2 separate regions of the Homo sapiens genome follow, and region 1 is linked to region 2. The links come from fine-mapping of genetic effects on gene expression. A gene starts in region 2. The other region holds a variant in brackets. All regions are shown on one strand. Distances are between the middles of the regions.

Region 1 (2,912 bases), 88 kb before region 2:
TATAGTCATTCCACATTTTACAATACTACTGTTTGATCTCCTCTGATATTTATCATACATGGCTTTGAATTACTGTTGAAAACTCAGAAGTCATATCAATTCTCAAAACATGAAGGAAAAATATGCAGCTGGATCTATTCTGAAAGAGCAATTTTTAAAAATGTTTTGAAGCCAGGTGCGGTGGCTCACGCCTGTAATCCCAGGCACTTTGGGAGGCCAAGGCGGGTGGATCACCGGAGGTCAGGAGCTTCAGACCAGTCTGGCCAACCTGGTGAAACCCTGTCTCTCCGAAAAATACAAAAATTAGCTGAGCATGGTGGTGCACGCCTGTAGTCCCAGCTACCCAGGAGGCTGAGGCAGGAGAATCTCGTGAACCCAGGAGACGGAGGTTGCAGTGAGCCGAGATCCAGCCACTGCACTCCAGCCTGGGCGACAGAGCGAGACTCTGTCTCCAATTTTAGTATATGTGCTGCTGAAGCGAGCACAGAGCGAGACCCTGTCTCAAAAAAAGAAAAAGTAAATAAAAGTAAAAATGTTTTGAGCCATGGCAGTATTCCATTAGCACCAACTTTGGGCTGACATCCACTACACATATACACTGGTGCACATGTGTAATCAGAATAATTCATGGAGTGAAGGTGAGGGATACATAGACACTATAGAACAGGTGAAAAATAAGCTAGCAGTCTAAGGACAAATGTGAGGGCATAGAAAGTGGAGGCTAAGAAGAGTACAAGAGGTTACTGGTACGGAAATTCATAGAGCTTTGTGCATAGCGGCAATAACATACTTGAGAAAATTATAGAACCTCAGTTGTAGAAGAGACCTTAATCTTTCAGATGGTTGATGAGTGCATATTTATTATAAAAATTAGGGGCTGTCATGTTTGTGGTATTTAACTTTATGGCCAATTTCCATTCATGTTCTTTTTTTTTTTTTTGAGACAGAGTCTCACTCTGTGGCCCAGGCTGGAGTGCAAAGGTACGATCTTGGCTCACTGCAGCCTCCACCTCCCGGGTTCAAGCGATTCTCCTGTCTCAGCCTCCTGAGTAGCTGGGATTACAGGCATGCGCCACCACGCCCGGCTCATTTTGTATTTTTAGTAGAGACGGGGTTTCTCCATTTTGGTCAGGCTGGTCTCGAACTCCCGACCTCAGGTGATCCTCCTGCTTCGACCTCCCAAAGTGCTGGGATTACCGGTGTGAACCACCGCGCCTGGCCTCATTCATATGCTTTTGTACAGAACATTTCCTTTCTCTTGGGTTAATATTAAACTATGATTAAGTTCTCTGTGTCTGGAAAGGTGGTCACAGTATTATAGATGTTAAGAGAAAACTTCAGGAATTTTAAGAATAGTTTCAATAGGGAATACATTTCAGAATTTCTTTTTTTTTTTTTTTTT[G/TG]AGACGAAGTCTTATCCTGTCACCCAGGCTGGAGTGCAGTGCTGTGATCTTGGCTCATTGCAACCTCCGCCTCCCCGGTTCAAGTGATTCTCCTGCCTCAGCCTCCTGAGCAGCTGGGACCACAGATGCGCGTCACGACACCCAGCTAAATTTTTTGTATTTTTAATGGAGATGGGGTTTCATCTTGTTGGCGAGGCTGGTCTCAAACTCTTGACCTCAGGTGATCCACCCACCTCAGCCTCCCAAAGCGCTGGGATTACAGGCTTGAGCCACCATGCCTGGCTGAAGTTTCAGAAATTTAAGGGAGGTAATTTTGAGTTGCGAATGGAATCTTACTAGTAGATTCATTTATTGGTAGACTGCTACGTGCCAGGCATGGTTCACATCTTAAGGATACAACTGTGAGCAAGGCGTGGTGTCTGTCCTCAGAAAGCTTAAAGGTTAACAGGAATAGAGACACACGAATAGGTATTAGAATACAGTGAGAGAATGGTAAGGAGCTAATACTGGAGCACAAAAGAGGGAGGTCAAGAAAACCTTCCCAGAATAAATACTTTTTTATCTAAAATCTGGAAGATGTTTCTTGCAGGAGAAACATGCAGAGACTTGGAGGGGAATTGGGCAGACATGTATACAGACAGAGATGAGAGAGGGGAGACAATCGGTTTAGGGAATTGATAATTCCAAATGAGTAAAGCACAGCTAGTGCAATAAATGGACCTCAAGAGATAAATGGGAGATTGGGTTGGGCCTTATAAGCCATGTTAAAAAAAATCTTGTCTTTATTCTGAGAATAGTGGGGAGTCAAGGGTTTTAATTAGAGGAGTGAGACTGGGCACTGTGGCTCACACCTATAATTCCCGCACTTTGGGAGGCTGAGGTGGGAGGCCTGGAGCTTGAGATCAGCCTAGGCAACATAGTGAGACCCCATCTCTACAAAATGTATTAAAATTTTATTTATTAAAAAAGGAGTTACATCTGATTTGACCTTTTTTTTTTTTTTAAAGAAAGAGTTACTTGGCTATAATGGAGAAGAGATAGGCACAGAGATCAGTAGAAGGCTGTTATATTAACCCAAGAAAGATAGTGGTGTCCTGAAAAAAGTTAGTGGCGGAGAAGTGGACTCCAAAAGGTATGGGAAGAAATCAGAGTCAAAATGAAGTTTAGGATTCTGTTTTGGACACCTAGGTATGTAACAGTGCTATTTATGAAGGTATGGAATAGCAGAAAGGTGTGGGGAGAAGATGGTTAGCTCAGTTTTGGATAAGTTAAGGTGCTGCTAATAGGACTTCCAGATGGAGCTGTTGAAGCAGATGAATATTTGGGTCTAGAAAGAAGAGTGAGAAATCTGTCATATTCATGGCAGTTAAAGTTATAAAAATGGGGCTAGGTGCGGTGGTTCACACCTGGAATCCCAGCACTTTGGGAGGCCGAGGCGAGTGGATCACCTGAGGTCAGGAGTTTGAGACCAGCCTGACCAACATGGTGAAACCCCGTCTCTACTAAAAAT
Region 2 (2,912 bases):
TTCATCAGACTTTAACATTAAGATTTGTGCACTTTAGGCTGGGCGTGCTGGCTCACACCTGTAATCCCAGCACTTTGGGAGGCGGAGGCGGGTGGATCGCCTGAGGTCGGGAGTTTGAGACCAGCCTGACCAACATGGAGAAACCGTGTTTCTACTAAAAATACAAAATTAGCCAGGCGTGGTGGCACGTGCCTGTAATCCCAGCTACTTGGGAGGCTGAGGCAGGAGAATTGCTTGAAGCCAGGAGGCAGAGGTTGCAGTGAGCTGAGATTGTGCCACTGCACTCCAGCCTGGGAACAAGAGTGAAACTCCGTCTCAAAAAAAAAAAAAAGAAAAGAAAAGATTTGTGCACTTTACTGTATATAATATCTAGATGTTTAAAATGCAATGGGAGCATAGAGAAAGAAGTACCTAACTCGGAGTAAAGAAATCCTGGCAGACTTCACTGGGAATGTTTGAACTGAATCTTGAATAGGAGCTTGTCCATAGAGGGTCACGGATCTCCCACACAGAGAGCACCACAAAATCCTCAGCAATTTGGTGAGAGTATGGTACAAGATGATAGTGGCCTGGGGCTTGAACAAGAGGCTGAGTGCGGTGGCTCACACCTGTAATCTCAGCACTTTGGGAGGCTGAGGCGAACACCTGAGGTCAGCAGTTCGAGACCAGCCTGGCCAAAATGGCAAAACCCCGTCTCTATTAAAAATACAAACATTAGCCGGGCATGGTGGCAGGTGCCTGTAATCCCAGCTACTCAGGAGGCTGAGGTGGGAGGATTGCTTGAGTGTGGGAGGCGGAGGTTGCAGTGAGCCGAGATCATGCCACTGCACTCCAGCCTGGGTGACAGAGTGAGACCCTGTCTCAAAAAAAAAAAAAAAAAAAAGTTAGACGTCTAGTACAGGAACCATGCAACACATCGAGTCAGCCAAGGGCAAGGTAAGGAGAGTGATGAGGAAAAAGGGGTGGCTGCCCTGCTCGGTGCTGTTCTGTCAAAGAGCCGAAATTCTTCGCGGGGTGGCAGATGAGGACAGGAACAGCTGGGGTGTGGCAAGTGTTGCTGCCTGGGGAGAGCGGAGGGTGAGGTGTTTCTCACGGGTGCATCCAGTGACTCATCAGGACAGCGGAGCTCATGAGGCCATGTCTCCCGTTTCCTGCCTTAGAATCACATGAAAATGAGCAGAGGGTGGGTCATCAGGACAGGGCTCTCCGGGGAGCGGAAGCGCCTTCAATGCAGGCCTGTGGGCAGGGGCGTGGGGGCGCGCACACACACACGCCTGGGTGACCTCTACGTATATACAGAGCCTCCCTGGCCCTCCTGGAAAGAGTCCTGGAAAGACAACCTTCAGGTCCAGCCCTGGAGCTGGAGGAGTGGAGCCCCACTCTGAAGACGCAGCCTTTCTCCAGGTTCTGTCTCTCCCATTCTGATTCTTGACACCAGATGCAGGTAAGCAGAGATGAAAGGGTGAGGTGACGGCCAGGGAACAGCCTAGCCTCACAGATGAGAGTGCACGCTTCCACTCCAGTGAGCCTGGCTCTGCAGCTTGGCGTCTGTGTGACTTTGCGCCATTCACTTACCTTCTCCTGTTGCCTCAGTCTGTCAACTTCTGGCCTTTGCACCTAGAATACTCTTCCTGCCTAGTATCTCATCGTCCATCAAGTTTGGGCATGGGCAGCCCTTCCTCCGGGAAGCTTCGTTTTGCTTCTGCCAGATAGGATTAGGTTCCTCCATGTGCTTCCATGACACCTTAAGTTGGATGCCCCTGCCTGGTACTTACTGTTACCAGCTGTGAATCCAGCGAGTCTGCAGCAAACTCAATCCTTGCCTTCTCGGGGGAGAGATTCGGCTGAGGGGCAGAAGTGGGTTTAAGGCAGAGGGAGAGGCTGAAGCAAGTTTGAGAGCAGGAGTGAAGGTTTATTAAAAAGTTTTTGAGCAGCAATGAAAGGAAGTAAAGTACACTTGGAAAAGGGCCAAGTGCGTGACTTGAGACACCCAAATGTGCTGTTAGACCCTTGACTTGGCGCCTGCCTGCCGCACAGGCACTTGGGAGGGGCCGCATGCGCAGTGTGTTTACTGAAGTCGTGCGCATGCTCACTTGAGGCGTTTTTCCCTTACCCGCGGAGCAGCACTAGAGGAAGGTCACACACACCAGCTAAACTCCACCATTTTGCTTCTTAGTGTAGATGCTTGAGCCCACTCGCCCAATTCCTGAGCTCTTACCAGGAAGCTGCTGATCACCAAGTTCAGGTATTTTCTATCTATTGGGAGACTGTCTTTCCCAACGCTGGCTGTGACCAATATTATTTTAGAAAGACAGTGTAACAACCGCCTGGCCATCACCTGATAGTCACCTGACATTACTGGGGTAGAGGCCCTCTCCCGCCCTGCTCATGTCTGCTCTATTTCTTACCACACTTGATTAGAATTACTTTTTGGCCAGCCTGACCCACATGGCGAAAACCCATCACTACTAAAAATACAAAATTAGCCGGGCGTGGTGCATGCCTGTAATTCCAGCTACTTGGGAGGCTGAGGCAGGAGAATAACTTGAACCCGAGAGGCGGAGGTTGCAGTGAGCCAAGAGCATGCCGCTGCACTCCAGCCTGGGCAACAAGAGCGAGACTGTGTCTCAAAAAAAAAAAAAAAAAAAAAAAAAAAGAATTGCTTTTTGCGTCAGCAGTGTCCCCACTAGACTTTAAGCTCCTCAAGGAAAGGGATTACATCTTTTTCATCGTTATATCCCTAGCCCCCCAAGTGTCTGTCAGGTAGTGATCACTTAATAAATATCCGACTGAAGGAAGAATGAAAGAAAAGCCTTGCTGGGTGGCGAGGGAGAGACACAGATGTAGAGAATGTGCGGTCTCTTCCTCCATGGAATTGAGCCGATCACTTCTGTTGTTGCCTGGACATCTAG

Direction of the effects. Positions count from the first base shown, and alleles are read on the strand shown. Sizes are in standard deviations (SD) of each study's normalised expression.
With allele TG in place of G in region 1, the expression in monocytes after LPS of the gene that starts at base 1,320 in region 2 is higher (small effect, 0.39 SD a copy in Fairfax 2014).

What was found.
Region 1: its variant is fine-mapped to the expression of TM4SF19 in monocytes after LPS (Fairfax 2014, PIP 0.95).

Annotation. Positions count from the first base shown.
Region 1 is chr3:196,424,876-196,427,787 of GRCh38, reverse strand. All of the region lies in intron 1 of UBXN7 (UBX domain protein 7), which reads left to right. Among named protein-coding and RNA genes, the nearest start is that of UBXN7-AS1, 5.1 kb to the left of the region's middle. The variant G/TG (reference allele first, on the strand shown) is at 1,403.
Region 2 is chr3:196,336,796-196,339,707 of GRCh38, reverse strand. It overlaps TM4SF19 (transmembrane 4 L six family member 19), which reads left to right and starts at 1,320. Exons shown (of 5, transcript NM_138461.4): 1 at 1,320-1,444. It overlaps TM4SF19-DYNLT2B (TM4SF19-DYNLT2B readthrough (NMD candidate)), which reads left to right and starts at 1,288. Exons shown (of 6, transcript NR_037950.1): 1 at 1,288-1,444. RefSeq lists a silencer at 1,016-1,187 and enhancers at 936-1,230, 597-1,796.